2 separate regions of the Homo sapiens genome follow, and region 1 is linked to region 2. Evidence: fine-mapped expression QTL. A gene starts in region 2. The other region holds a variant in brackets. All regions are shown on one strand. Distances are between the middles of the regions. Region 1 overlaps CHRM3 (cholinergic receptor muscarinic 3). Region 2 holds the start of CHRM3-AS2 (CHRM3 antisense RNA 2).

The links.
Region 1: its variant is fine-mapped to the expression of CHRM3-AS2 in activated naive CD4 T cells (Schmiedel 2018, PIP 0.93).

Annotation. Positions count from the first base shown.
Region 1 is chr1:239,685,688-239,690,107 of GRCh38, forward strand. All of the region lies in intron 5 of CHRM3 (cholinergic receptor muscarinic 3), which reads left to right. Among named protein-coding and RNA genes, the nearest start is that of CHRM3-AS2, 31 kb to the right of the region's middle. The variant TATACAC/T (reference allele first, on the strand shown) is at 2,493.
Region 2 is chr1:239,717,164-239,721,583 of GRCh38, forward strand. It overlaps CHRM3-AS2 (CHRM3 antisense RNA 2), which reads right to left and starts at 1,956. Exons shown (of 3, transcript NR_103776.1): 1 at 1,787-1,956. The region is part of intron 5 of CHRM3 (cholinergic receptor muscarinic 3); the gene reads left to right.

The sequences.
Region 1 (4,420 bases), 31 kb before region 2:
GGTGTGTGCTCATAGTCCCAGCTACACGGGAGGCTGAGGCAGGAGAATTGCTTAAACCCAGGAGGCGGAGGTTGCAGTGAGCTGAGATCGTGCCATTGCATGCCAGCCTGGGCAACAGAGCAAGACTCCATCTCAAAACAAACAAACAAACAAAAAATAAGAACAAAAAACAAACAAAAAAAACTGTGTTCTGTCATTGACTCCCTGTCACTGCCTCCTGCCATTGTTGCCTTCTCATCTCAACTGAATGATGGGCAACAGAGCAAGACTCCATCTCAAAACAAACAAAGACAAAAACAAAAACAAACAAACAAAAAAACTGTGTTCTGTCGTTGACTCCCCATCACGCCTCCTGCCACTGGTTGCCTTCTCATCTCAACTGAATGACTCTAATATGCTCTTTAATAGTCTCCTTCATGATCTTTCTACCATCAGTTTTGTCTCACATTAATTTCTCCTCTGCACTGATTCCAGAGTAATCTATAATTTTAAAAAAATGGACTTCTGTTACTCACTACCTTAAAAACTCTTGATTCCATGGTGCCTATAGGCGCTTTGTTCTATAAACTTATCATAAAACAGCAGAGTTTCTATGGGAGCTCATCTGAAGCTGTTCCCTTCTGTGAATCATATGTTCCACTGCTCCAGTATTTTATGATTTTCTGGGAATTATCTAAACAGTATACTTGCATGTGCTGCTCATCCTGCCTGGACTACACAGAGCCCTCTTTCCTGGGAAATTGGTGTTCACCTTCAAGACTCAGATCCAGTGTCACCTGTTCAGTGATGCCTATCCCTCCTTCTGCTCACCCTTCCCTGGGCAGAGTTAAAAGTTCTCCATGTCTTTCCCCAGAGCCCTTCCTTCATATTTACGCAGAATTCACCACTCTGCACTATACTTTATCAATTTCATTTATTGCTACTCCTCAGACTGTGAGTTCCTTGAGGACTGGAATCCTCACCATATTCATCATAGTACTTTGTCCCTAATGGCAGTGCAAAGTGGTCACTGAATAAATGCTTTCTGGTTGAATTTTAACGGATCCATGAATTTCTTGATTTATCATCATTTTACAGCTAGGGAAATTATGCAATCAACTAATTTGCTCCACATTCTGGAGCATTCAGAAAGATCAGCAGAGAGTTTCATTAACTTGAACTGCTACTGACTGCCCCATTCACCTGTTGGAAGAAAGTTCAAATAGAGAAAAATGTAATATACCTGCTTTCTAAGATTTTAATAGCTTTAATAACAGGGAATGGCATTCAATTTACTTCATATTATTAACATAAGTGCTTTAAAATATATGATGCTCTCTTAAGAAAAATAGCTATTACTTAATATCAAATGTTATCCATTCATTCAATATGTATTGATTGTCTTAATATATGTAAGATTATCTATTACATTATTATTTTATTGATACTATATTTTAATAATAATAAAATAATAATATGCTTGGAAAAATAATAAAATGGTAGCTATGTCCTTTGATGTCCAAGAATAATTGATCCATTTTTACTAAGAATATTTGTACAAGTTTTATATTTGATTTATCACTTTAGTTTATTTGTTAATAACTCATTTTAATGGCAGCCCCTGCCACTTTTGTAACTCTGGTGGTGGTTCAGAGATTATTCATTAGCATGCTTTATAAGTGATAATATTCCAGGGCAATATCATGTAGTATTGCTAATCCGTCGTTATTTATCAGAGCATCATGGTCTTTCTGAGTGAATTAGATCATATTGATAGTACTTAGAAATACTAAAATTAATCATTAACTTACTGCATAGTTAATTCCATTCTTTTTAAGTTTCAAACTCTTTAACATTGAACAAATTTAACAAATTTGCCATATGTACATTATGAGGTCATAAAAACATGCCTTTATTAATATAAATGTGACATGTTTTAACCAGGGACAGTTAAGAAAATATTCATTAGAGTTTACACACATAGCCACGTGCTGCATAATGATGCTTCAGTCAAAGGCAGACCACAATAGAACAGTGCTCCCATAACATAATAACTACTGTTTCTATGTTCAGATATGTTTAGATAGCACAAATACCATTGTGTTACAATTGCCTACAATACTCAGTATAGTAATATGTTGCATAGGTTTGTAGCCTAGGAGCAATGGGCTATCCCATATAACCTAGGTATGTAGTAAACTATGCCATCTAGGTTTGTGTGAGTACCCTCTATGATGTCCACACAATAATGAAATTACCTAATGACACATTTCTTAGAACATGTTAATGTCGCTAAGTGATGCATGGATGTATGTTCTTACCACCATCAAATACGACTGCTCTTAAATGTGTCATGAATACTGATGCTTCACATTAATACACAAAACTGCTCTTAAGGTAGTTGCCAGCCTGAAAAAAATTGGGAGTTTTGATACTTTGTTACTTTTTCTTTTAATATATTGCAAGGTTTTTCACTGATCTATTTGCAGAAGGAAAAAAATACATATATATAA[TATACAC/T]ATACACATACACATGTATTATATATAAAACACATGCACATATATGTATTATATAATCTATTATTAAATAATATATAATACATATATACACATATATATGTATATGTGGGTATTTTATATATATGTACGTATAGATATTTGTGTGTGTTTGTGTGTGTGTGCATATATATTCCCGTTAATTTGAAAGCATTGTTTTGGGTTTTAAATATATAAATATAAATATGTATATAAATATATATAAATATATTTACATATCATATTTATAAATATATTATATTATATATTATATATTATTCAATATACTATAATATATATTATATATGTTTAATACAATATATAATATTTACATATATTCCCATTTATTTATATAACATATATTATATGATATTATATATTACTCCATATAATATAATATATTATACATAATATATTACTCAGTATAATACATAATATATATAATATATTACTCGGTATAATATATAATATTATATGTTATGCAATATAATATATAATATTATATATAATACATTATTCAATATAATATATAATATTATATATAATACATTATTCAATATAATATATAATACACTATTCAATATAATATACAATATTATATATAATACATTATTCAATATAATATATATTATATAATATATATATTTATATATTTTATTTTTATATATTATATATTTATATATGTATATATAATATACATTTCTAAATTATTTTAAGTCATTTTGTATTCTTAGGATAGTTAAACTTGCCCTGCAATCTTATTTATTTCCTTGCTTTTCATATACAATGAAAGTGTATATGACTTTGGCTTGCAGTATTATGATAAATTCACCATTGATTAAGTCATAATTAAAGATTGCTATTCAAAGATTCAAAAATTAAAGATGGTAATTAAAGTATACTACCTTCTTTCTAATACAATACTACTACATTTATTTACAAATTCTCTAACCCTTTCTATGGGAGTTTTCAATAACAATTAGAGTAAAAATGTGATTTGTTTTAATGTTAATAATCACTAATCTTTTTTGTTGAAAAATATAGGATGAGATTTTTCTCAGTTTACTTTTTTTTCAGAGAAGGATTCTATATTGAAATGTCAAAAATGTAAGATGCAGGAGGATAAGGAACCAATGTTGCCTTAGCTTTGAGTACTTCCTTTGTGCACGCAGAAAGACTGACATTCAAATTTAGGCTAAATGTTGCTTACATAAAGGAATGAAAAAATGAATAAAAATATAAATTTCTCTAAAGTATTTTTTAATAAGAGTTAAAAGGATTACAAAATAGCAGCGTTTGTGAAATAGATTTTTAATATTGCTGCACATTAGAAAACATACAGTTATGCCTCAAATGTATTCAACTTATGTTGGAGGAGGGATTTCGTTTACTTCCACAACTTTGCACTACGTCTTCAGAGAGTTTGCTTTCTCTTTCTCAGAGATCCTAACAGCGGGATATCTATTGACTGCATATTCTGTGCCAAACATTCTTTTAGGCATTGATGCTAACACAGCAAATAAAACGGAAAAGCCTGTGCCTTTGTGGAGGTTATATTCTGGTAGAGGAAGGTGTAAAGTACTAGGATACACATGTAGATATTCCGTGTCCAGGGTACGGATTTCAGTCAGCAGCTGTCCAATTAGGGGAGATTTGGGAATATACCATGTTATTTTATGCCAATTCAAAGCCTGGGAAGAGGCAAGATTGCCCAGGGAGATCACATGGAGTGAGAGGAGGTAAGAACTCTAGGACTGCCCATGCTTCTGAGCCCATAACATCCCAGAACACGCTTAAAGGATCACTTGACACTAAAACAGAGAGAGAGAGACAGAGAGAGAGACACAGAGAGAGAGAGAGAGAGAGACAGAGAGAGTTGTTGGGTGGAGTTCTCCTTTTCTTCAAAG
Region 2 (4,420 bases):
CAACTGCAAAAGATTGAGATCCTGAATAAGGCTTATGGGTGTATTAAAACTGTGCCCTTGCAGAGGAAGTAGCCTTGAATAGTTATTGGCTTTGAAAGCAACCAGTTTTGTTGACTTAATTATGCTGGTACCAGGAAAGCATAGAATAGATCCTGTTGATAACAAGAGCCATGCTGGACATTAACAGTTTCACAGAGAGTAGTGGGGACCATTTCTTTGGAATAAAGTTGAAACATGTTTCTTAATAGACAACTCTCTCAGCATTATAAAATCCTGATACAGAACTCAAGGAAAGACACACACGCACACACACACACACACATGATTTTTATCGTTGTTATCTTAGTAAATAATGACTAATGTGGTTTTTGGTTGTTATCAGTTGGTTACGGATTGGAGTTAACATTTCATCAGATCTGAGCAATAACCTATGTGGTAAAGTCCTAGTGTGGCAGGAATTTGGGATTCAAGGGGGGTGCTTATATAATCTGCTTTCTTAAGGTAAGGTTTGCTCTTTTATGCTACCTGTCATTTCTGCCTTAAACAATGTCCGGGAAATTCAGCCACACACAACAAAGAACCAGATCCCTCATTTCGGTTCTATCCTTCCTCCTCTAGAACTGACATTCCTTGGGGCCGTGTCCTCAAGTGACGTGTCCTGCTCTAGCTAAATGGCAGTAATCTGTGTTTGACTCCAGCAGTTTATCAAGCTATGTCATTTTATGCCATGTCAGTTTATAGAGAGTGGCACAAGATACAACAGGATAGGGAAGCTGAGTTTTCTATTTGTCTACTTCATTGAAAACATGATTTTGTTTACTGACAAGTAAATGGTATAGGTGTAAGGAAAGAGTAGCAACTACCATATTATTTTGCCAGAATCCTCATGTTACCGTTTCAAAAAATGCCAAGAAAGATGACAGTGCATGTTATAACATCCCTTACAAATAATAGCAAAGCTTTAATCAGCTGCTACACAGACACACTCAGGATTGAAATGCAACCTACTAGGGTGAAACATGACAAGCGGTTCATTGAACACTGCGCAGAAGGTAAATGAAGTGTATATTTTCCAATCACAACTGGAATTTTAAGTGAGTGAAATGGAATAAACTCAGTTTGGAATTTGAAATAAATTCACCATGGAATGTGTCTTAGAGACCAAGGTTTACACTAGCGCTATACAAACTCCTCAGCGTGAAACATGACACAAGGTGAAATTTTCCTGGCATCTTAGAGTCAGATACTGACTTCTGAAGGACCAGGGCACAGACATTTCATCAAGAGCTATTTGTTTCTAATTGGGGAAGAAAATACAGATGTTTATATAATACTCTGGGTCAGGAGTAATATTCCACCTGGTACATGGAGTTTTGTACACTTTTTCAGAGGTGGTATTTCTAGCTGAGTGTTAGCAGTAAAACATTTTCATCAAATTTCCATTCTTTTTTTTTTGAAGCCTACTTGCATAGTTCTAAGGAGTGTCATAGCTCACACATAGTGACACTGATTAGTAAAAATAAGAAGTGATTGAAGAAAACACAAGGAAAGAATCAACTTGAAGTCATTCAGAAGTAACCACTAGTAGCAATTTAACTACCCTGTTGCCAAAGCTCTTTTCTTAAATTACAGATCCTCATGAGCTAGTAAGTTTGAAGGGGAGTCATAAAGAGGAACAGGCATTATACGCAAGGCTGAAGAAGCAGTTGGTAACTAACAGTACATCTTTTTCTAAGGTAAGTTTAAGGTCACAAAAAGACTTAATGTACAGAGTTGAAAAACTTACATATTTCTTAGAAGCTTAGAAGTTATGAGTTTAGTTGGGGCTCCAGGAAGATGCAAGATGCTAGACTCCAAAAAATAAGAGAGAGGTCCAGTGTAGAATAACACTCTATAGATTAAAGGAGGACTCAAGAGTAGAGGAAAAACTTAGCAAAATACAGGGCTATGAGTTAGGTGTTCCTAGTTAGAGTCTGAGTGTCCGGAAATGATGAAATGGGTGAGCTCCAAGAATGCAGGATATGTGAAATTGGTAATCAGATCTACTGGTTTGCTTGTTCTGAGTGTATCGTTAGGGTTTTTGGGGACTGGTGTTAGTGGTGTTGGCAGAATTAGTCCCCTGCTCTTGGTTATACCTGTCCACTTTAAACAGTAGCTTGTAGTTATTTAGCCCTTAATTGCATTCAGGTAAAACCAATATAGCACCCTATAATTCAGCAAATATTTGTTTTCCTGGCAGTATTACAGTTTCAGGGGGCAGTTCTAAGGTGATTACAGTTTCCACTGCTTGGAGCTTTCTGTATATTTATCCTTGGATTAGACTCAAAGTAAGCTGATTTTATCAAGCCACCGGGTAATTCTGACCATTTCATCTGGCGATTTTAGTACGGTATTGTTGCAGCTGACCTGTATACGTAAGGAATTACTGGGTCATCAGCTCTGGGGAATGTCTTTTGATTATGAACACATTTTCAGCATGTGTCCACTGAAGGTAAGGGGCAAAGAATTGCACGATCTACTTGAATGCCTGTTTAAATAGATAAAAGTGGGATTTTGGGCACGGCCTGGTTATATCTTCTTAAACGTAGGTAGTAGAGCCGCAACTCAGCGTAGCAACAAGAGATCTTTTGAACAACTGAACATTCAGATGAAGCAACTATGTCCTTCAAACCACATCCTTCCTGCTGCCTGTGGGAAAGGGGTGATATTTGTGTTGAGCTCTGAGCACATGCAGAATAGATCTGTGTGTATTTCCACAAATAAAAGGACATTGTGTGTGTGTTTGGCACCTGGGATGGCAAAAGCAGTTAATTGCTTCCGAAAGCTTTGTTCCAACCCAGGGATCGGCAGGATTTTTAAGCACTGAACTAGGAACTGGGCACTAAAAATACTTATGCAGAAGACCTATGATAGCAGTAAGTTTACAGAGCAGAGCTAAGACTTGCAAACCGTGTTGTATCTGTGTCTTTACTTACTATGGTTGAGAGGAAAGGATTTACACGCTGCGTTTGCAACCTGCAAAGTAATGAGCCGTGTTGTAGTAACATTTTGAGATATTGTATGTTGTGTTGTTTATATGAGGATCATTCAGAATATATAGAATATAAGTATATGTTTTTCTAAAACAAAAAACTTTGCCCTAGTTTCTTTGCATATATTGTTCACATCATGTTCATATAGTCACTGGCAGTTAATGATTTTTGTCATTTAGTCAGAAACAAAGTAGTGCTCTGCCTCTGAAACCCCAAAAAAACCTAAATTAAAGTAAAATTAAAAGATGTATTAAAATTAAACTTGGATTATCAAAATGAAACAGTAATGCTCTCGTGCCACTCAACGCCAGACTTTTCATGTTGCAGATAGCAAGTGAACAGAAAGCTAAGCATGAACATATTTTAAATGCTCCTGATATTTTCAAATGCTTAATCCTAAGCCTTAAAGGGTTTTATCTATAGAGATTTGGGGAATTTCAGTGTTTCTTTTTCTTATTTTAGATTTCCTGTTAAGTTATTCTCCAGAGTTTTTATATAAAATGCACGAATAAGCATGATTTAACGAGAAGACAAAGTCTTAAGTGCTGTAATTCATGTTGGAAATCATGAGTATTTTTAAGTCTTCTTACTTATAATCAAAGTGGTCATCTCCTGAATATAATGAAAATAAGAGCAAGTGATAGCCCCTTATCTTTATTTAAATATGCTTTATCTGCAGGAGTTTGAACAACTCAGGCAAGGAAATATTTTGTTGAGAGGCAAGATGCATTTTTAAATTTATTTTTGCTTAATATGTGCTCAACTTAAATTGATTTGAGAACATATATTTAAGCAAGGTCTTCATAAATTATTATAAAATGAGAATTGTATATTGTGACATGTTTAATAATCATGATTTTATTCCAGTGATCCAATAAAAGGAGTGCTCAATTGAAGGAATGGAAATGTGTCAAAAAGCCCAAACTCTGCACAGTATAATGATTCCTAATTCTCAAAAAATCCAATGGGTTTTAGTTTCTAAAAGTGATACGATAAAAGAGTACAGAGTCTCTCTCTAATTCTGTGAGTGAAATTCTCTTTAGAGGGAATGCTGAATAAAAAAGATAAGATCAGGGAAAGAGGTGAAAGAAATGTTCTTCTCCAGTTCACCTTACATTAGGAGTCAACTTTTACCCAAGCTCAGGCAAAGTTACTTATATGAGAATCCCGGTACTTCAGGATGGAGAGAATGAGAAACAAGAAAATGATAGGCATGGTATTAAATCTTAGGTATGGCAATTCTATTGAGCAACATTAATGTTTTGGAAGGTTCTAAATCATAATAAGAAGTATGTATCTCATGCATGATACAAATGCATTTCATTAACAGGGAGAACAAGGTTTAGAGCTGAAAGTAAATCAAAGTAAGAGTTTGTATTTTAATGAAG